Homo sapiens: one gene and its partners. The protein of the gene in region 2 interacts with the protein of the main gene of each other region in a pairwise test. Each region holds a gene or a part of one and is shown on either strand. Other genes may lie near its edges.

Region 1 (7,223 bases), on a different chromosome or scaffold from region 2:
GTGACACCCCATCTCTACAAAAAAATTTTAAAAATTAGCCAGGCATGGTGGTGCATGCCAGTAGTCCTAGCTACTCGGGAGCCTGAGGAGGGAGGATCACTTGAGTCCGGGAGGTCGAGGCAGCAGTGAGCCGTGCTCTCACCACTGTGCTCTAGCCTGGGTGACAAAACTCCTGTTTTTGGTGGGGGGAAAAAAAAGAAAAGATTTATTTGAGTATGTTATAGATGTAACTGGGAAGCTGGTGGTTGAGGGAATAAGTATAGGTAGGGTATTTATTTATGGCAATAAGTAGCCTTGATGAGAGTTTATCATGAATCACTGTGATGGGCATTTAAGTGTACTGAACGGTTTTCCAGGTTTCTATTGTTCAGTCTTATGCTTATTGTGCATGTTTTGGGCGTTACCAACTGTGGGGTGGAAATAGCATTTTTAGGATTTGAAGTTATTGGCTTTAATGTTTCACTTATGCTTCATGAATTTTGATTTATATATGAATTGAGTCTCCTCCTCCTATGACCTGCGGAGTGGCTGCTTGGTTTGGGAGGCTTAGAAGCGTGGTGCTGTTGGTGTAGGTCCATCTGTTTGGCAATATTCAGAGTCAGCATCCTCTGCATTCTTTGTGAAGTGAATGTAAAGCTGCTCTTTTCCTTTTTCAGATGCCCCACAACCTTGTGGTCTTAATTTTAGAGTGTCATTTTGTTATCAGTGATTCATTTCTTTTGTTCTGGTGCTTGTGTTCTTTTGCAGAGTCCCAGGGTAGATGTAATTATAGATCATGTATTCTATAAGTGAGCTTTGGTGGAAAAGTCAAGTGAGGGATAATGAAATATTTGTAATTAACGTTTAATAAAAAGGGTGTTTGAAGTGGTGCTAATAAACAAGTGTGTGTGTATGTGTGTATTTTAATTCTGAAAATCTTAAAATGCTACAAGAAAGTCCAGAGAACAGTACAACAAACATCATTGTATTCCAGAACTAACAAATGTTAACATTTGAGATATTTCCCTTTCCTCTAAAAACAAAACAAAACAAAACCAACATCGCTACATTTAAAGTCTTTTTTGTGCCCCTCTGGTCCCATTCTTCCTTCTCCTGGGGCAAACACTAACCTGTATTTTGCATGCCCTCTTGTGTCTAGGCTTCTTTTCTGAGCTTAAAACTTCCAGGAAACTGGAGCTTGGGTTTCAGTGATGACTTAAGTGAGGAGGATAACACTTGTCTTTCTAAATAATAGAAGATGACATAGCAAGGCATGCTATATCACTAGAAAAGGGGGCATTTTCTCATATGAAGTTTATAAGAAAACAAAAACTGTAAGATCTCTGCCATTTAAATTGTGGATTTCAAGGTTTGGAAGGTCAAAGAATTTGGAAGCTGCAGCTGTTCTGAGAGACCATCTTGTGCTCTGTGGAGCTTTGGTGATTCCACTGAGGTGACCTGGGGGTGAGAGGGAAGAGCTTCAACACACCTTCCTTCCCCCATCCAAAGTAGCTCTGCTTTTGTTTTACTGTTGAATTTCTTGAATAAAATTCACTTGTTACAGAGGGTGTTTTGGCTAACACCTCCCCTCCCCCAAACACTACCAATAACTAGTTCAACTGCTAATCTAGTTCAACCATCTCATTTAATGAAGAAACTGAAGCCTGAGTTTTTTGGTCTACTTGTAGTTTTCTTGATTGAAGAATGTTTCTATCTTTTTTTTTTTTTTTTTGTACAGTCTCGCTCTGTTGCCCAGGCTGGAGGGCAGTGGCGCAATCTTGGCTCATTGCAACCTCCACCTCCCGGGTTCAAGCGATTCTCCTGCCTCAGCCTCCTGAGTAGCTGGAATTACAGGCATCCGCCACTACGCCTGGCTAATTTTTGTATCTTTAGTAGAGACTGGGTTTCACCATAATGGCCAGGCTGGTCTCAAACTCCTGACCTCAGGTGATCCGCCCGTCTCAGCCTCCCAAAGTGCTGGAATTACAAACGTGAGCTGCTGTGCCTGGCCTCATCATTTTTTTAACTATGGTTGTTAACCAGGTGTGTGCATTAGAATCACCTGGGGAACTTAAAAAAAAAAAAAAATACACCTATCTGGGCCCTACCATAGAGATTGTGGTTCAGTAGGTCGGGGTGGGAGATCCAGACACATAGTAGTCCCTTGGTATCTGTGGGGGTTTGGTTCCAGGACACCTGCAGATATCAGAATCCACAGTTGCTCAACTTCCTTATATAAAATGGCATAGTATTTGCATATAACCTTAGCACATTGCATAATATATACTTGAAAACATCTCTAGATTACTTATCATACCTCTAGATTACTCTAGATATATCTCTAGATTACTTATCATACCTGATCCAATGTAAATGCTACATAAATAGTTGTTACACTGTATTGTTTTATTTATATCTTTCTTTATTTTTTTCTGACTGTTTTTGATCCATAGTTTGTTGAATCCATGGATGCAGAACCCATGGATAAGGAGGGCCGACTGTATTTTAAATGTCTCTAGTGATTCCGATGCTCCTTCCTTGGCCCCCACTCCTCCCCCTGTTGAGAAACAAGATTTAAAACTCTGCCTTATGCTGGGATATCATGACCTCAGTAGAATGTTACACTTCATCCTATTTCTTCATCAGGTTCTGCATTAGCCAGGCATTTTATTTTCAGCTACTCTAGAGCGTCTTTTTTTCTGTCAGGTGTTTTTTTCCAGTATAGGAAAGTAGCCCATTTCCTTTAAAGACCACCCAGCAGGCATGATCCCCTGAGGTGTTTTTTTGTTGAGTGCTTTTGCATACTTAAGGAGTAACTGACCTGGCCCGGTGGCTCACGCCTGTAATCCCAGCACTTTGGAAAGCTGAGGTGGGCGGATCACCTGGCGGTCGGGAGTTCGAGACCAGCCTGACCAACATGGAGAAACCCCCGTCTCTACTAAAAATACAAAATTAGTCGGGCGTGGTGGCGGGTGCCTGTAATCCCAGCTACTCGGGAGGCTGAGGCAGGAGAATTGCTTGAACCCGGGAGGCAGAGCTTGCGGTAAGCTGAGACAGTGCCATTGCACTCCAGCCTGGGCATCAAGAGTAAAACTCTGTCTCAAAAAAAAAAAAAAAAAAAAAAGGCAGTGGAGACATTTGTGATGATCTTCAGGTTTTTTTTTTTTTTTTTAAGGGAGGGCATAATAGTGGCATATTACCCTAGCACACCCTGCCCATTGGCCTGGCATCATGGAAAGGTGCCTGGTCTATTTTATGGAGGCAATCATAAAACTGGGTGTGGTGATTTTTGTTGTTGTTTAAGGCTTTGATTTTAAAAAATCAAGGTTGGAAGCACCTATTTAGATTGTAAACTAGAGAGGACAAAGGAAAGAAGCCTGGGAATGTTATGGTGAGAAAAGAGGACTAGAATCCCTGTCAGCCACCTATGTGGCTGCTGCCACCCCTAAAAAGTGTTGTGAGTGCACCAAGGACAAATGGCATGCTCTTCGTTATTAGTGAGCTATTAACCTCTTCCAGTTCTTTCTCCTACCTTGGTGAACCGGCCTGTATCTTGTGTGTTCCGAGGGCCCCTCTTTCCCCTCTAGCGCTAGACCCAGTTTGCCTTTTTGGTTTGGTTCCATCCTGTTTCCTCCATAACCTCCACCCCTCCCAAGTTGGAGGAGCCCCAATATCTGGGATTTACAGTAACTCTAAGGCCAGGAATAAAGATCATAGAGATTGGAGGGAGAAAAGCTTCCCCTCTTCAGTTCTATTTATAATACCTCTACTTCTACTAAAAGCTCCACCTTTTAGTACAGTGGCCCCATTGTGTATCCTAGGGCACTCCATTTTCTCCTCTGCCTGTAACAGAGCTCTTTCTTGGGAAAAGAGAGGAGTGTGTAGAGAGTGAATATGACTGTGTAGAGGCAGTGAGTATAAGTAAGAGAGTATAAGTGTAGAGAGACGAAAGTTTTCTGTGGCTGTGGGTTTGTGTTTCCCTGAAAGGTTAACTGGGAAAATTTAGGGGTAATTCCTATAAATGAGCACTGGGAGTGGTTGAGAAATAGAAAATGTAGAGATTTCTGCTTTTCTTCATTGTTTGGAGAGCAGCTTCAATATTGAAATTAAGCCGCTGTTCTAATGAGATATCACCTAACGATTCAAGGCTTTTTGCTAAGGGCTGCACAATAGATCAAGGATACATCTTAAATTATTATTTATGCTTAAATTGAAGCTTATTTTTATCCTTTTGCCTGTTCTTATTGAGTTTTACATTTGTTTAGGCTAAGGAGCGGGGTTTTTTTTGTTTTTTTGTTTTTTTTTGAAACGGAGTCTCGCTCTGTCGCCCGGGCCAGAGTGCAATGACGCTATCTCGGCTCACTGCAAGCTCCGCCTCCCAGGTTAACGCCATTCTCCTGGCTCAGCCTCCCGAGTAGCTGGGACTACAGGCGCCCACCACCACGCCTGGCTAATTTTTTGTATTTTTAGTAGAGACGGGGTTTCACCGTGTTAGCCAGGATAGTCTTGATCTCCTGACCTCGTGATCCGCCCGCCTTGGCCTCCCACAGTGCTGGGATTACAGGCGTGAGCCACTGCGCCCGGCCGGCTAAAGAGCAGTTGTATAGGAGCAATGAATACCGTTTCACTCAGTTGAAGGAGGTAACATTTAAATATGTGAGGTATGTTCAGTGCTTAGGTCTTGGACAGGAGGAAGTAACAGATCAGAATAAGGTTCAGGTGAAAAGAACCAAGAAGAGAACGTGTCAGGCAGGACAGAACAGGGAATTCTGCAAGTGAGAAGAAAGTACGATTAGTACTGGAAATGGAAGAAAATTCAGCTAGGTTAAAGGTCACAGGAAGAAAGTTAATTCCAGCATTCTCTGAGTTTCAGACAATTCCTGGTGTGCGCTTTCAAGTCTGTCATGGGCCACCTTTCTGCTGCTGAGTGCCCGTACCCTAGCTCAAGGAATAGGGCACACCCCTCTTGTAGAAGGGAAGGTAGGAACGCTGGCTGGTTGGAGACTGTCAGCAACTCCACGGTGATAAGTCGAGCTTAGCACTAAGTAGAAGTATGTCACTTTCTGTAATTTAGAGGAATTGAAAAGGTATCTTGGAAAGAAATTAGTTCTTGGGAACAAAGTCTTTTTTGTGCATATGTCTTTACTGTTGGCATAGAGCATTTTCTGGGATGGGCTCTTCAGATCTCCTCTCCCTGTAAGTGATTTCAGAATTCCATGAATGTTGGGATATGTCCAGGCTGGCACCCTGGGATCATGAAAATAGAAGTTAAGACATTTAAGAAGCAAGAAAACAAAATGGGTAGGTGAGGTGACTAGGAAGAATATCATGCCCAGCACTTCTAGAATTCTCAAAATGAGGAGCATCACTTAAATTTTGAGGGGGATCATTTTTAGGATGGTGACCCAAGCTCTCTTTGTACAGATGAGAAGTCTAGTTATCTCATGAGACCCAGTGTGACTAAAGGACCATAGCATGTAGCTGCGTAATGGCACGGTGGCACTAGGAGCTGATCCATTCATTTATTTATAATTACCAAGGGGAAGTATGGGGTGAGATTTATTCTTAACTCTTAAAATGGTGACATACACTATTTTAAGAATAAACCTCCATTCTTTTTTCGGATATTAATTTAGTGCAACGGCCTTGGACAGGCTCCACCATAAGAAGTGGGTTGCATTTAAAAGTGTATTTATTAAAAGTGGTTGAAGCTGAGTGCTTTTCTGTATTGTAACACTGTTGCAAATGGGGAGTATTCATTCCTAATGTGGCTGCCGAAAGCTTTTTACCCTACCATGTAGCTGAAAATTTAGCAAAAAAAATTTTTTTTTTTTTTGGAGACGGAGTCTCGCTCTGTTGCCCAGGCTGGAGTGCAGTGGTGCGATCTGGGCTCACCACAACCTCTGCCTCCCGGGTTCAAACGATTCTCCTTCCTCACCCTCCCGAGTAGCTGGGATTACAGGTGCCCACTGCCATGCCTGGCTAATTTTTGTATTTTTAGTAGAGATGGGGTTTGACCATGTTGGCCAGGCTGGTCTCCAACTCCTGACCTCAAGTGATCCACCCGCCTCGGCCCCCGCAAAGTGCTGGGATTATAGGCGTGAGCCACTGCACCCAGCCTAGCAAAATTTAAAATTAAGAAATGTAAAGAGTTGAACTAGTTAGTACCCATTATTATTAAGAAAAGTCATGTGGCTCTATATTCTCATAGTACGAATAATTAAGTAAAATAGAAATTCAAAAGTATGAATAAAATTTCTTTGAAAATCTTGAATGTTGAGATATCTTGCCACAGTGAAAAGAATCAGACTTTCTGTTTTGGCAGGTGTGAGTTCTGATTCTGGTTTTGCAAGTTGCTTAACGTCAGGGAGTGAGCCCAAATTTGTCCTTTGCAGAATGGGAACGCTATGCATCTTACAGAGCTGCTGTGATGGTTAATTGCTTGGCACAGTGAAATACAGTAGGCACTCAACAAACTTTTTTTTTTTTTTTTTTTTTTTTGAGACGGAGTCTTGCTCTGTCGCCCAGGCTGGAGTGCAGTGGTACAATCTTGGCTCACTGCAACCTCCGCCTCCCAGGTTCTCACCATTCTCCTGCCTCAGCCTCCCGAGTAGCTGGGACTACAGGCGCCTGCCACCACACCTGGCTAATTTTTTACATTTTTAGTAGAGATGGGGTTTCACTGTGTTAGCCAGGATGGTCTCGATCTCCTGACCTCGTGATCCACCTGCCTCGGCCTCCCAAAGTGCTGGGATTACAGGCGTGAGCCACCACGCCCGGCCTGAACTCAATAAACTTTTATCCAAGCACCTGGATAAAGGATATCCTGAATTTTTTCTTTTCTTTTTTTTTTTCTTTTTTTTTTTTGAGATGGAGTCTCACTCTTGTTGCCCAGGCTGGAGTGCAGTGGCACTATGTTGGCTCACTGTAACCTCTGCCTTCTGGGTTCAAGCGATTCTCCTGCCTCAGCCTCCCAAGTAGCTGGGATTACAGGTGCCTACCACCATACCCAGCTAATTTTTGTATTTTTTAGTGGAGACGGGGGTTTCACCATGTTGGCCAGGCTGGTCTCAAACTCCTGACCTCAGGTGATCCACCCGCCTTGGCCTCCTACAGTGCTGGGATTACAGACATGAGCCACTGTGCCCGGCCTCCTGAATTTTCACATTAAATCTGCAAAAGGAAAAGCAGATTTAATGTGAAGATGACAGGAATTTTCTGGGCACTTTCAAGGTCCTAAGGTT
Region 2 (7,504 bases):
GAGGAGGCCGCTTCCATCCCCCTTCCCCAGTGGCTTGCCTCCCTTCCCTACAGTGGCCTGATTCCAGCCTTTACCTTTTCTGGATCCCCACCCGCTTTGAGAATCCTGGGTGTTATATAATATTGCTCCCAGAAAAATGTGCCCACCTGGGTACACATATAAATTTCTGAGATTTACAGAGCCCCTGAAGCCCATTCAAAGAGCCCTTGGGGGACCTCTGGTTAAGAACCCCCTGGTTCAGGAATTAAGGGGACAGACTTGAATAAGAAACAAAACAAAACAAAAGGACAGTGTTCCAATCCTGATCACTCCAAAACAGGCTGTGTGACTTTGGATGGGTTACTTAACTTCTCTGGGCCTCATTTTCCTGTTATGTAAAATCGGGGTAAGAGCATAGCTACCTAGAAAGATTGTGAGTAATAAATGAAATGAATAAAACTCTTAGCCTGGAGCCAGGCACAAGGTAAGGGCTTATGGTATTTATTGTCATGGTTATTGTTGCTGTTACTGCAGACAGTGGCCCAGGGCAAAATGTAAAAACCAAGTGGGCAGTCCTGACTTAGCCTGGGTGGCAGGAGGCCGTTTATCATAGTCCACTTCCATAGGAGAAGAAACACTCTGAATTCCACACAGAGTGTCAGAGTAGCAGGTCTTCATGGGACAACAACAACAACAGTAAAATGATCCGCACTGCTGGCCAAGTTAACTTGTTTCAAGCAGTGTCAGACCCTTTTCTCTAAAGGAACTCTGGCCTGAGAGTCAATGCTGGTGCTTATACAAATAATCTGGAAATGAATGGGGGTACCAAAACAATCCAGAGTGAATCCAATGGAGTCTTTGGGGGTTTAAGCGAATTCTTCTCCTGTGTTAAGGTTTAACCTGTTTTGTTTGGGTCTGCAGGGTCCCCTTATTGTGGCAATTCATGAAATGCTGTTTCCCTCTTCTTTGTCTGGAATATTCCCTAAACTGAGGGAAAGCAGATTTTTGGCAGAATGATCCCTTCCCTATCCACTGAGAAAGAATAAACCTGGACCCTGGCTGTTTAAGCAGCAAACAGGAATTGAGGATCATGGTAGCATATAGATTATGCTCTGAAGACAGGTATTCCCTCTGTGGAGCAGACTCTGGGAATCAGCTGCTTTCAGCTCCAGGTGAGAAGATGCTGGCCCAGCTGACTGGGGGTGGGGAGACCCCCAGAGTGTCTGCCTTGCCCCAGCATGGGGGCTCAGTAGGGGATTGGGCAGAAAGATTGGAGCCCAGAATGTCAGGGCTGGCTCTACCCCCACTGACCCTGTGTTACTCATTTCTGGAATCCTCCTAATCTCTAAACTCCTCTGAGGGGCCCAAACCATTCCCCTCCACATTGCACAATCATGTATACCCCATTTGCTCTATGGAAAGTCATTCAACCGATATTCAGCGGGAGCCCGGTGTCTCCTAGGACTTCGAAGGTCCGAGATGAACTGGAATACCCAGAGGAAGGCTCCTGCCCTCAGGTCTGGCAGAGGAGGCAGGTAGGGGTCAGTACACAAACCCAAAACATACCTCATTGCTCTGCAAGAGGGGTACAAGAGGCAAGCGGATTGGGGTCCCAGGAGTCCAGAAGATTCCAGACCCCCACACAATGCGGTTTTTCAGCAGCGAAGGTAGGGGTGGGACCACGGTGTTGGGAAAAGGTTGGTGTAGCAGGTGGGCTGGTTTCCAAAGGTGGCCTGGATAAGGGGATCTGGGTGAATCAAAACAACAAAACACAGGGTGATACCACAGACTTCCCCACATCCCTGCACCTCACACTGCACTCCACACCCCAGCCATATGGTGTGCCCAAGTGTGTTTAACCAAGAGGCCAACCAATTAGGTCAAAAGAGCCAAGCCATAGGATTGGACAGCAGGTACAGGTCAGCCAGGGAAGAAGAGGTTTGGTGTTGGTGGTGGAGGTAACTCAGCAGATGATTGTGAGACGTCGTGTTCCTTTTGACATGGTGTGGCTGAAGACTAAAGATCTCAGTACTAGCCAGCAGGATAAGACATTAAGAACACGCCAAGCAGAGGGACCCCTCTGCTCCCCAGTTCATGTTCCCCTTCCTGTCAGCTTCCCAGTAACCCTGAACTCCGCTGGTCTTGAGGATCTGGGAGATGGGCAACAGCAGGGGATTGGCTTGTCCTTAAAGTCCTATCCTGTGGGCTAGTACCAGATGCGATGCAAAGACTGAAGAGGACAGGAAGGGTGTGGAAGTATGGGAGGAACTCTCTCTCTCTCTCTCTCTCTCTTTCTCTCTATTGGGATCCAAGGGTCCTTGTTCCTGGATCTAGAGGGGCCTCCCTGCCTCCCTGCTAGCCTCACTTGCCTGAGGCTCTGGGTCAGGGGGTTGGGGTTATGGCAGGAAAAGGCTGAAATGGGATCCTGAGGGCAGGAAGTGAGAGGACTGACCCCTCTTGGCCCCAGAGCTTCCAAGCCACCCAGATTCAGCTCCCCAACGCCCTCTCCCACCGGTCCGCCTCTGCTGGTCTCTAGGCTCTGACTCCTCTGTTGCTAGGCCCAGCAGCACCTCGTGGCTCCCAGGGCAGCGCAGAAGAGTAGAGACAGGTCTGCCCTGGAGTGGGTCTGCAGCTCTGAGGGAACTGTGATTCCCATTCTCACCAATCCTGCCTCTGAGCATTTGTCTTCCCCCCACTCGCTTACTGCCACCCCGAAAATGCAGGACAAAGATGAGTTAGAGGGTAGGGGTTCTTCCCAACATTCACAGAACTGGGGCACCAAACAAGAACCCTTTCTCCCTACACTGTCCTTTTTACCCCAGAGAGCTGCCAGCCACAATTCCAAACAAACAACTGAAGGTGAGATCATGAAACCTATCTCTGCTGTGCAGAGGCCCCCTACGCTGAGGCATCCAGAGAAAGAACCTGCTTCCCGCCCCGGAGCCCAGCTTAGCTCACTCCCTCTCTGGGGTTAGATATGAGGGGAGAGGGGGCAAGAAATCCTAATCTTCCCATTCCAACCCTTGGCCTGGGCCACAAATCCTCACTTTGGCCTCTCTGGGCCCTTTTCTGGTCCAAGCGGTGCTGCCCAATGCCCAACCTCACCGCCCACCCAGGAGTTTACAAACAAAGCCAGGGCCAGGGCTGTGTGTGTGTGGGAGGGGAACAGCCCTTCTCCCTGGACTCCAACCCCCTCTAGGTCCTCCCCTCCTTTCTCCAAGGGCAGAAATGGAAAATTAGTAAGGAGGCCAGTGGCCCCACATAAACAGAATGGGGTAGCAAGACAGGAAGGCCTGAGGGCACAGCCCTGCTGGAATGCCTCAGGGAAATGAAAGAAATAGCTGAGTTCAAACACACCTATATACCCACAGGTTCACACACATTTACACAAATATACGCATGGAGAAACACACACAAACACACATTCAAAAACACAAACACCTTCAAGTAACAATGCACACAACATGTTCTCCCGATATTCACAGATCCCGGGCCCTAAGGTCTTTAGCCCCAGCCTAACTGGAAGCCTGGCCTCCCTGCGAGTTCCTGAGAGCAAAGCCCCAGCCGCGGCCTGGCTCCCGCCGGGCCCCCGCCCCGCATCCGGAACAGCTGGAGTCGGCCTGGCCATGCACTCAAGCCGGGCGCTGGGCTAGGCGGGGCCGGCAGCGGGGCCCCGGCCGGGGCCCGGGCGGAGCGCAGCAGGGAGGCACGGAGCCGGCCCCGTTAGCCCCGGCACCTGGCCTGGCTACTCTTCAGACGCCCATCATCAGGCCGTTGGTGGCCCCAGCCAGCCTGGGGAGCGGCTGCCGGAGGAAAGTGAGCAAGATTGCCGGAGGAGGTAGGGCGGCCGCTTCGGAATCAGGCCGGGGAGAGGCGTCCAGAGCCGCCAACAATTCCCTCCTCCGCCTCTCCGCGTGGAGAAGGCTGAGCTCTCCGACTAGCCCCCTCCCCCAACCCCTGGGGTCCTCCACCCCCTTCCCGCGTCGCCCACCCAAGGCTGCGCAGCCGGCTCTGACCTCCTGCGGGCCAGCGCAGGAGGGCTTCAGATTCCCTCTCCCCAGGCGCGTCGCCCAGGCAGTGGGGTGAGGGGCAAGAGGGTCAGAGGTAGAGGCGCTGGGCTCTTGATCTCAGCTCCGCAAAGTCCACTCTGGGTGGCAGCGGGGCCCACCCGGGCTCCTGGTCCTACCTGGCCCGAGCGGCGGCCGCGTCCCTCCCGGGCTGGGGTTCCCACCACTCTTTCGGGCTCCACATCCCGGGTCGGAGAGACCGAGACCTTCGGGCCGGTGCGGTCATTGCAGCTAGGCCGGCGGGAGGCGGGTGCGCCAGGAGCGCGGCTCGCAGTTTGGGGTGGGGGCGGTGGCTTTTCAGTCGCCCGAGGTTCGGGTGCAATAAAGGAGCAGCTAATGTAATTTACAAACAGCTCGGGCCGAACGCAGCGCAGCGCCCGGACTGACAGGCGCATTAGGCAGGCTAATTCCAGCCGGCTCCTCCTACCCCCGGCCCGCTAATTAATGAGCTTCCCAACTTACAGCCGCCTGCATTGGACAGACAGAGAGTGAAAGAGAGGGCGAGGGAGAGGGAGAGAAGGAGAGAGAAGGGGGGAGCAGAGAAGAGAGAAGAGAGAGGGAGGGAGGGAGAGCGAGAACAGGAGGAGAGAACAGAGGCAAAGAAGAGAGGAAAAAGGGAGAAAGGAGAGAGAAAGAGAAAGAAGTGCCGCTGCAGATAATTGATTACACCGCGATCAAGGCTAACTTGTTAGCAATAGTCAATTGCCCCGTCTCTCCGCCTCCCTCGCAGTCCGGGATCGGCGCCCTCGCCTCGGCTCTTCCAACTGCGGCCGCCAGGACCCGGGGCCAGGAGCCACTGCCGAGCCACCTGACACCTTTAAATAGCACCGGGGTTGGCGAAACTGGAGCCCCGCGCAGCGCGCCCCGGCTCCGGCCCCGGATTGCTGGAAGCCCCAGCAGCAGCGGCGCCCGCGTCAGCGCCCTCTTCCCGGGGCCCCGCGCTGTTCTCCCCTCCTCAGCCGCCGCGCTAATCGGCCCCGCGCCCGGCCCGCGCCCTGCCCAGTGCGGCCTCCTTTCCACCCGCCGCTGCCTGCCCGCGCCGTCCGGCGCCCGAGCTGCCCGCGGGCTGGGTCCCCGCGGCCCGAGCCGCCCCGGCCGGGACCCCGAACAAGGCCGAGATGACTTCCAAGGAGGACGGCAAGGCGGCGCCGGGGGAGGAGCGGCGGCGCAGCCCGCTGGACCACCTGCCTCCGCCTGCCAACTCCAACAAGCCACTGACGCCGTTCAGCATCGAGGACATCCTCAACAAGCCGTCTGTGCGGAGAAGTTACTCGCTGTGCGGGGCGGCGCACCTGCTGGCCGCCGCGGACAAGCACGCGCAGGGCGGCTTGCCCCTGGCGGGCCGCGCGCTGCTCTCGCAGACCTCGCCGCTGTGCGCGCTGGAGGAGCTCGCCAGCAAGACGTTTAAGGGGCTGGAGGTCAGCGTTCTGCAGGCAGCCGAAGGTAGGCGCAGCTGCTGGGTTCCCCTGCACCCAGCGCCTCGCGCCCTGTGCCCTGCGCGCTTCGTCCCCTATGCCTCTGCTCGCCTCTGCCCTCTCCGGCCGCCAGGGCCTTCCAGCCTGAGCAGCTGCTTATGGGAGTGAAGATATGTGGGACGGGACCCAATCCTTATTTCCCAGGGACCTCTGGGTAGGCCAGAGCTGGGGGGTGGCAGGAGAAGGGTGGCCAAGCTCTTTCCGCAGTCTGCTTGCTTTGCCGGGCTCCCTTGCGTTCCCAGTGTCCTGGGCGCTCTTAGCCCGGCTACTCGGCGTGGGGAATCGAGAGTCTTTTGCCGGGGACCTTATGGGTAGGGTAGAGTTGAAGTGATTGGGAAGGGATGGAGAACCAACATTCACACCGCAATTAGGGTGTCTCTGTCTGGCTTTCTCATACCCTTAGAGACTTTGGGTCTTTCAAACCAACTCTTAGGTAGGGGGCAGAGACCAAAACAATTTTTCCTAGGGACTTCTGGGAGACCAAAGACAGGAGATGGTTTGCCATAGCCAAGACTTGCCCTGGTCCTGGAGGCTGAATTAAATCTGAGAAGGGAACATTGGTAGACTGCAGGCCGGACAGGCCTGGGTGGGTTACGGAGTTACGGGGGCGAGAGCCAGGGTGGGCTTCCTCTCTCCCAACGCGAGCCTACACTGTCCTTTCCTCCCAGGCCGCGACGGTATGACCATCTTTGGGCAGCGGCAGACCCCTAAGAAGCGGCGAAAGTCGCGCACGGCCTTCACCAACCACCAGATCTATGAATTGGAAAAGCGCTTTCTATACCAGAAGTACCTGTCCCCCGCCGATCGCGACCAAATCGCGCAGCAGCTGGGCCTCACCAACGCGCAAGTCATCACCTGGTTCCAGAATCGGCGCGCTAAGCTCAAGCGGGACCTGGAGGAGATGAAGGCCGACGTAGAGTCCGCCAAGAAACTGGGCCCCAGCGGGCAGATGGACATCGTGGCGCTGGCCGAACTCGAGCAGAACTCGGAGGCCACAGCCGGCGGTGGCGGCGGCTGCGGCAGGGCCAAGTCGAGGCCCGGCTCTCCGGTCCTCCCCCCAGGCGCCCCGAAGGCCCCGGGCGCTGGCGCCCTGCAGCTCTCGCCTGCCTCTCCGCTCACGGACCAGCCGGCCAGCAGCCAGGACTGCTCGGAGGACGAGGAAGACGAAGAGATCGACGTGGACGATTGAGCGGCGCCCCGGGTCTTCCGCCGCCCTGGGCTCCTAGCGCTCGAAAGCCCAACGCCTCCCGGACCGGACCGCCGAGGGGAGCTGGGACCTCCTCTGCCAACTCCCGCCTCCTCCCCTGTCCCCGGCCCCGGACTCGGCTCCTGGCAGCCGCCTCTTCCCTCTCGAAGCAATAAACCCAGGCTGGCCGGCCGGGCCGGCCGCCACCAGCGGCCTCCGCCGCCCCGGAAGCCCTCGCCGTGCAATTCTGTATGGCTTCTATATAAATATTTAAACCTATATAGCGGGTTCTTCCCACCGCAGCCTGATTTTTCCTTTCTTTTATTATTATTTTTTAAATCTCGGAGATTTCGATGTTTTCAAAGCTCTCGGGCTGCCGGGTTTGCTGAGGGCGAGACAGAAACCAGGGCGGGGAACACTAACCCTGCGGTCTAGGGGAGTGGCAGCTCCGGCTGTTTTGATTTTTCTCTGCATGTGGCGAATGCACCGGCCCGCTCCTTCCTCGCCTCCCTCGGCCTTATTGCAGTTGACTTCTATTTCCTCGGGCCTTTTTTCCTCATGTGGGAGGGGAAGAGGTGGGCAGTCAGGTCCTGACTTGCAAGTTTCAAAATCGATCTTTCCTCCCCACCCTCTGAGAGAAAAGTCTGTTTTCGATGCCATTTCTGCCTCCTAATGCCCACTAATGCTGTTTTTAAGATTCCTCCCTCCCTCCCGCATTTCCTCGGACTGACTGTTGGAGTCCGGCTCTTAGGGACAATGCAGGGGGAAATCCAACCAACCAACTATCGAAAACAGAA
Region 3 (7,223 bases), about 69 Mb from region 2:
TGGATTAAGAACAGCGATATTTTTGGAGCTCAGACTTTAAATTTAGAATAATCATGGTAGAAAAAACCCACAAAATATTTCCCAATCCTGTTTATTTTCATGTTTTTCTTACCACTGTCTCTTCCAAACCCTTCAAGTCTTGTCTTGCTTGTTCTCGTCTATCTTGCATAACCCTAACAGTAGAAGAACAAACATATATTTTCAAATTTTATTCTGTATATTGTACTTAGCATGAGAGTTGAATAAAATATTTTGTGTCTGAAAGGATAAATTCTTAAATTTAAATAAATACAAGATGCCTATTTTAAACAATTTACCTGTGCTGTCTTTCAAAAAAAAAATTTTTTTTTTTTTGACACAGAGTTTCTGTCCCAAACACTGCTCACTGCAACCTCAACCTCCTGGGCTCAAGTGATCCTCCTCACCTCGTCTCCCAAATAGCTGGGACTACAGGCATGTACAATCAGCCCTGTCTAAAAAAATTTTTGTAGAGACGGGGTCTCACTATATTGCCTAGGCTGATTCTCAAACACTGGGCTCAACTGATTCTCCTGCCCTGGCCTCCCAAAGTGCTGAGATTATGGGTGTGAGCCACTGCAGCTTTGCAATTTCAAAAAATTTTCATATGCCTTCTAAACAACAGTCTATTGTTATACATTCCATATATAGCAATGGAAGAGATGAAATAAAATGTGGCAGAATTCAAAGAATAAGGAATAGTTCTATAATTTATATTTTAAAATATGCCACATGTATTATACTGCTATTTATCCAAAATGATACTGATTAATTATAGATTATAAACTGTCAAAGACTAAAATATTTTACATTACAAGTATTCTAAACAAAATTACAGCTGCAAGTTAGCAGAATCTTCATATAATCCACTCTGAACTGGTCCTGATGTTCTAACTATCCTAACAATATCAGTTGATTTGCAAATTGTCTCACAAACTCAAGGTATGTGAAAAATTATAATCATGCACTTTCTACCTGCTAAGATTCTAGAAAACTGAGTTTTGAGAAAATGAGAAAAGGTAAACCATGAAAACCTCTGTTCAAAATGGCAAGGCTAAACACCACAATGCTCTTTTATGCAAGAGAAAATTTAACAAAAACTCAGTTTTTGTGTTAGATCTTAAAATCTTCGAAGTTACTTAATATATTGTTTTAGGTTCATTTTTATGCTGGATCCTGAAGTAATATGGAGATAAAGAAACAGCAAGCAGATTAATAAAGAGAAACCTTAATCTTAACCACAATGAAATATAAGACCTTGCTTTCACTCAAATGCAAGTATATATTCCAAGTATTTAGATATAAATCAAACCAACTCAGTGGATTTAAGAAAAAATCCTTTAGCCCATACAAAGTAAAATATGTATCCACTGGCTATATCCAAAGGTAATGCCTATAATCCTCTAATTTAGCTTTTATTTTTAAACTTTAATTAAAAACAATTACTCACGTAAGTTCATGTAGTTTTCTGCTCTTTTCCTGATCTGTGGCTTTCAACTTCTCATGTTCTACTCTTAGACGTTCCTGCTCTAACATCATTTTCTGGTTTTGGCTGACGAAAGAAAAAAATAATTAACACAGTATCAATATCACAGTTTTCTCAATGTCATCATTAAAATTTCCAAACTTTTAAATTCTATAATCTCATCAAGGACTTTTCTGTTATCCTATACCCTATGGAGGAAAAGAGGAAAGGGACCTGGCTACTTGTGGACATACAAAATTTTTCGTATTTTGGTTTGAAATCATGATTCTGTTCTCCTCTGTCTTTCATCTTCCTGAATCCTTATGCCTACTTCCATCAGGTATTCATAGTAAGACCTACGCCCCAAACCTCATCATTATTTTGTTATGTTATTCTCTTCTTGGTTCCTACTCAAATTGTTGCAAACTCTGACTTCCATAAACTCTATGTATGTGCACATGGTTATGGAGGCAGGGAAATTGCTTCTAGATAAACTAAGATGACAACTTAAAAAAAAAAAAACCTTTGAAAATCCATAGAATTTCCAGAAAAGTTTTTCCCAGTTAAGAATTTTGAGTCAGGGTCTCGCTCTGTCACCCAGGCTGTAGTACAATCATAGCTCACTTCAGCCTCAGATTCCAATACTCAAGCAATCCTCGTGCCACAGCCTCCTGGGTCACTGGGACTACAGGCATGTGCCACCAAGCTCAGCTAATTTAAAAAATTATTTTTTGTAGAGATGGAGTCTCACTATGTTGCCCAGCTGGTCTTGAACTCCTGACTTCTAGTGATCCTCCCACCCCAGCCTCCCAAAGCACTGGGGTCACAGGCCATCAGCCACTGCACCCAGCCAAGAATTTTTTTAAAAAAGGAAACTAAATAAAGGATTTGGAGAAGACTGTGGTATGCAATAATAGACTTAGGTTGGGGATTTTTTTCTTTTACTGAATAATTTAGATCAAAAGACCTAAAAAAAAGCCTCAAAAATTTCACCTGGAATTTAGAAGTTTTACTCATAAATGAGAAAATTCTTTATTTTCCAAGATAAAAATGTAATTTTGATGAAAACTGCAGGTTTCTAATAAGAATATATACCATGACCATCAGTAACCGATTCTTTCCTCCTAACTAGAGAAGTATAATACTTACTCTTGAAGATCAGTAATAAGTTTTGCTTTTGCTTCTACTTCATCTCTCAAACTACTGATCTGTTTTTGATGAGTTTCTCTATGGCTCTGGATCTGCTGTTCAACAGCTTGCTAAAATTTTGGGGGGGAAAAGGATGTTAAAGTCAGACTAATCAAAATTAATACTGATTAATTAAAGCTGTTAGAAATGTGACATCAAACTTGCCTTAACTTCATTTGCAGTCTGAACCTTATTTAAGTGCTCCTTTTCCATTTCATGGACTTTCTCTGTTTGAATAGAGAGAAAATAGAAGAGTGAAATAAGCCTTTAAGGTTCCTCATATAAACCAAGGAGCAAATGGATTTTACAATAAGCATTTTCCTTAGCAATATTCAACTTCAAATTACCCAAATGTCACCTGCTCTCCAAGTTCAATGACATGTAGACTAGTATACAAGTTACATCCATTGTGTTGGTATTATGTATTCCTTTATGGTTTGTTTGGTTTTTTTTTTTTTGGCCTAATCCAGAACAGATTAGTTAAGGGAATGGTAAAGAAATGAGATAACTCCTAAGTCCCCTATGTTAAGACACACACACACACACACCCCGCTTCGTAACTGTGGGAAATCCCCAGATTGGCTATTTCCATATTCAAACAAAATCTTAAAAATATATATATATATGTTTTGACAGGCACAGTGGCTCATGCCTGTAATCCCAGCACTTTGGGAGGCCAAGGCAGGCAGATCACGAGGTCAGGAGATCAAGACCATCCTGCGTAACACGGTGAAGCCCTGTCTCTACAAAAAAGGTAAAAAATTAGCCAGGCGTGGGGGCATGTGCCTGTGGTCCTAGCTACTAGGGAGGCTGCAGCAGGAGAATCACTGGAACCCAGGAGGTGGAGGTTGCAGTGAGTCAAGATAGTGCCACTGCACTCCAGCCTGGGCAACAGAGTGAAGACGCCGTCTCAAAACAACAACAAAAAAATGTTTCAAAGCAACATTAATATGTATGATTTGTTTACCATTCGAAATCAGCCATATTCCTACTATTTCTTTCAGTGTGAATATTAAGTTTACTACAATTATACTAAAATAAGAACACAGATGTAACTCATAAACAGTTGGAAGCTATACCTTGTGCTCGAAGCTGGACTAGTTCTTCACTGAGGGCATCGACAGATTCCTCCAACTGTCTTTTCTTTTGTTCCACATTTTGAAGGTATTCAGTCAATGACTTGATTTTGGCTTCATGCTTTTGGAAAAAATATACTGATATGAAGTGGAAAACATATGCATACACTTTAAGAATATTTGACAGTAAACATTTCATTATCTATATATGATAAATTTGGGAATATTTAAAACTAAAATATTCAGGAGCCAATTTTGAAATGTTAAAGAATGTAATCAATTAATTCATTGGTGATCATAACTTGCAAACTAAGGCACTGAAGACTCAAATATGAAATACTAATTTTACAGATACCACCATCTAACGTTACCATCTTCCCTCCTTGTGAAATTCTGATAGTGGTGAATGGCCCCATTCATTCAGTTGCCAAGCCAGGAAACTGGTTCCCTGCAGTTTTGCCCACCCTGGAATTCTGAAGTCTTTAACAAGTTACCACCAGTCACATCATTCTGGTAAATTTCTATACATAACCCATATTTATGTTAGGCAAATATAACTCAGTTAAATCATTCAAATTTACTGCAGCTAGACTAGGAAAAAAACAACTAAATTTCACCTATAGACACACATTTTTCTGAAAACTTGTATAATAAATAAAATTTCTATGTGGCTGTTTCAAAAAAATGAATAAACTTTGTTCTATAACATACTTGAGAGATACGAAGCTGACATGCTGCTAACTCCTTTTCATTTTCTTCCATTTTTTTGTTGCTCTCAGTTTGTGTGCTTTCTAACTGCTTGCAACGTTTCACCATGGTTTTTACTTCTGACTTCATTTTGCTAATGTAGAGTCTTGCAACAGTGAACTCTTCATCTATCATGCCAGTTCCCTCAGGCTGCTGTAAGGAAAAAGTAAAATAAAAAATTAAAGCCAAAAATGTTCAATGTGTGTTTTCCCAATTAGGCTATAAAATCTTTTTATAAAATATATTTTAGTATTACTCAATATTCATACAAAGTCTGGATCTTATTTTTTTCTTTTATTACTGTTTTCAACGAAAGGTAAATAAATACAGCTTACTTTTTGCCTTCCTTTTTTTAAAAACTGAGAATAATGTTAATACATGCCAACAAGAAAAATAAATAAATGTAAACCTAAAGAAAACACAAAAATACAACCAAACTAATAAATTCTGCCTCTTTCAATTTTTTCACTTCCTCTTTACAGGACCTCTTCAGTAAATTCATTGTTAATCATGTGCACGTTCAGCTTAAAATTTAACAAGAGGATGTTTAGGTGGCAGGGAAAGGATGAACTTTAAGCTCAACCAGAAGGAATTGTGGTCACTGTATATTCCTTCACCTTCAGGAAGAAATAAAACTGTGCAGATGACATGATTAAGTTTACATGTAAAGTCAAAAGACCCTGAATAGCTAGCACAACACTAAGGACAAACAAAGTCACAGGACTTGACACTATGCAACTTACTGTAAAGCTATAATAATCAAAACAGTACAGTGCTGGCAAAGAACAGATAAACAGGTTAACAGAACAGAATAAAGAGCCCAGGAATAAAACCACAAAATACAGTCAACTGATCTCTGACAAAGGTGCAAAGGCAATTTAATGGAGGGAGGACAGTCTCTTCAACTGGACATCCAGATGTGAAACAATGAATCCTGGTACACACCTTACCCCTTTCAGAAAAATTAACTCCAAATGGATCATAGATCTAAATGTAAATGCAAAACTGAAAAAAAAACTTTTAACACAGGAGAAAATCTAGGTGATATTGGGTTTGGTGACAAGTTTTTAAATACAATACCAAAAACACAATCTATTAATGTAAAACTTGGTAAGTTGGACCTCATTAAAATTAAAAATTTTTAGTCTCAAAAAATGACGTTGAGAGTAAAAAAAAAAAACAAAAAAAAAAAAACAAGACACAGAGAAATAATGCAAAACACTATCTGATAAAAGACTTATATCCAAAACATATGAAGAACTCTTTTTTTTTTTTTTTTTTTTTTTTTTGAGACGGAGTCTCGCTCTGTCGCCCAGGCTGGAGTGCAGTGGCGGGATCTCGGCTCACTGCAAGCTCCGCCTCCCGGGTTCACGCCATTCTCCTGCCTCAGCCTCCCAAGTAGCTGGGACTACAGGCGCCCGCCACTACGCCCGGCTAATTTTTTGTATTTTTAGTAGAGACGGGGTTTCACCGTTTTAGCCAGGATGGTCTTGATCTCCTGACCTCGTGATCCGCCCGCCTCGGCCTCCCAAAGTGCTGGGATTACAGGCGTGAGCCACCGCGCCCGGCCGAAGAACTCTTAAAACTCAACAATAGGAGGCCAGGTACGGTGGCTCACGCCTGTAATCCCAGCAATTTGGGAGGCTGACGCGGGCAGATCACCTGAGGTCAGGAGTTCAAGACCAGCCTGGCCAATATGGCGAAACCCAGTTGCTACTAAAAATACAAAAAATTAGCCAGGTGTGGTAGTGGGAGCCTGTAGTCCCAGCTACTCGGGAGGCTGAGGCAGAAGAATTGCTTGAACCCAGGAAGAGGAGCTTGCAGTGAGCCGAGATCATGCCACTGCACTCCAACCTAGGCGACAGAGCGAGACTCCATCTCAAAATAAAACAAAACAAAACTCAACAACAGGGCCAGGCGCAGTGGCTCATGCCTGTAGTACCAGCACTTTGGGAGGCTGAGGCAGGCGGACCACCTGTAGTCAGGAGTTCGAAACCAGCCTGGACAATATGGTGAAATCCCATCTCTACTAAAAATATAAAAATTAACCAGGCGTGGTGGTACGCGCCTGTGTTCCCAGCTATTTGGCAGGCTGAGGCAGAAGAATCACTTGAACCCAGGAGGCGGAGGTTATGGTGGGCCAAAATCACGCCACTGCACTCCAGCCTGGGTGACAGAGCGAGACTCCGTCTCAAAGAAAAAGAAAACCTCAACAATAAGAAAAAACACAACTGCAAATTAAAATGACAATAAAATAACACCATACATTAGTAAAATCCCAAGAAACTGACAAGAGCAAACACTGGCAATGATGTGGAACAGCAGACTCTCATTCATGGCTGATAGGAATGCAAAATGTTTCCACCACTTTGGAAGACCATTTGGGAGTTCCTTACAAAGCTAACATAGTCATAACGTACAACCTAGCACTTCTAGGTATTTTTACTCAACTGAACTGAAAATTTATGTCCAAAGAATAACTTACACATGAATTATTATTATTTTTTTTGGAGACAGAGTCTCACTCTGTCACCTAGGAAGGAGTGCAGTGGTACCATCTTGGCTCACTGCAACCTCCACTTCCTGGGCTCAAGCAATTCTCGTGCCTTAGCCTCCCAAATAGCTGGGACTATAGGCGTGCACCACTATGCCTGGCTAGTTTTTTTATTTTTTGTAGAGATGGGACTTCACCACTTTGGCCAGGCTGGTCTCAAACTCCTAGCCTCAAG

The links. The genes of interacting proteins can lie anywhere in the genome.
Region 1: the proteins of LBX1 (region 2) and IQGAP1 interact in binary tests that used the Homo sapiens proteins (3 or more experiments, as listed by UniProt).
Region 3: the proteins of LBX1 (region 2) and KIF5B interact in binary tests that used the Homo sapiens proteins (3 or more experiments, as listed by UniProt).

The regions. Positions count from the first base shown.
Region 1 is NC_000015.10:90,391,055-90,398,277, forward strand, and holds part of IQGAP1 (ras GTPase-activating-like protein IQGAP1), read left to right. Parts: intron 1-7,223. UniProt on the Homo sapiens protein: Plays a crucial role in regulating the dynamics and assembly of the actin cytoskeleton.
Region 2 is NC_000010.11:101,226,476-101,233,979, reverse strand, and holds LBX1 (transcription factor LBX1), read left to right. Parts: upstream 1-4,516; 5' UTR 4,517-5,164; coding exon 5,165-5,489; intron 5,490-6,189; coding exon 6,190-6,710; 3' UTR 6,711-6,986; downstream 6,987-7,504. UniProt on the Homo sapiens protein: Transcription factor required for the development of GABAergic interneurons in the dorsal horn of the spinal cord and migration and further development of hypaxial muscle precursor cells for limb muscles, diaphragm and hypoglossal cord.
Region 3 is NC_000010.11:32,018,390-32,025,612, forward strand, and holds part of KIF5B (kinesin-1 heavy chain), read right to left. Parts: intron 4,648-7,223; coding exon 4,459-4,647; intron 3,869-4,458; coding exon 3,751-3,868; intron 2,899-3,750; coding exon 2,837-2,898; intron 2,743-2,836; coding exon 2,633-2,742; intron 2,011-2,632; exon of another isoform or gene 1,571-2,010; coding exon 1,469-1,570; exon of another isoform or gene 174-1,468; coding exon 113-173; exon of another isoform or gene 1-112. UniProt on the Homo sapiens protein: Microtubule-dependent motor required for normal distribution of mitochondria and lysosomes. Can induce formation of neurite-like membrane protrusions in non-neuronal cells in a ZFYVE27-dependent manner.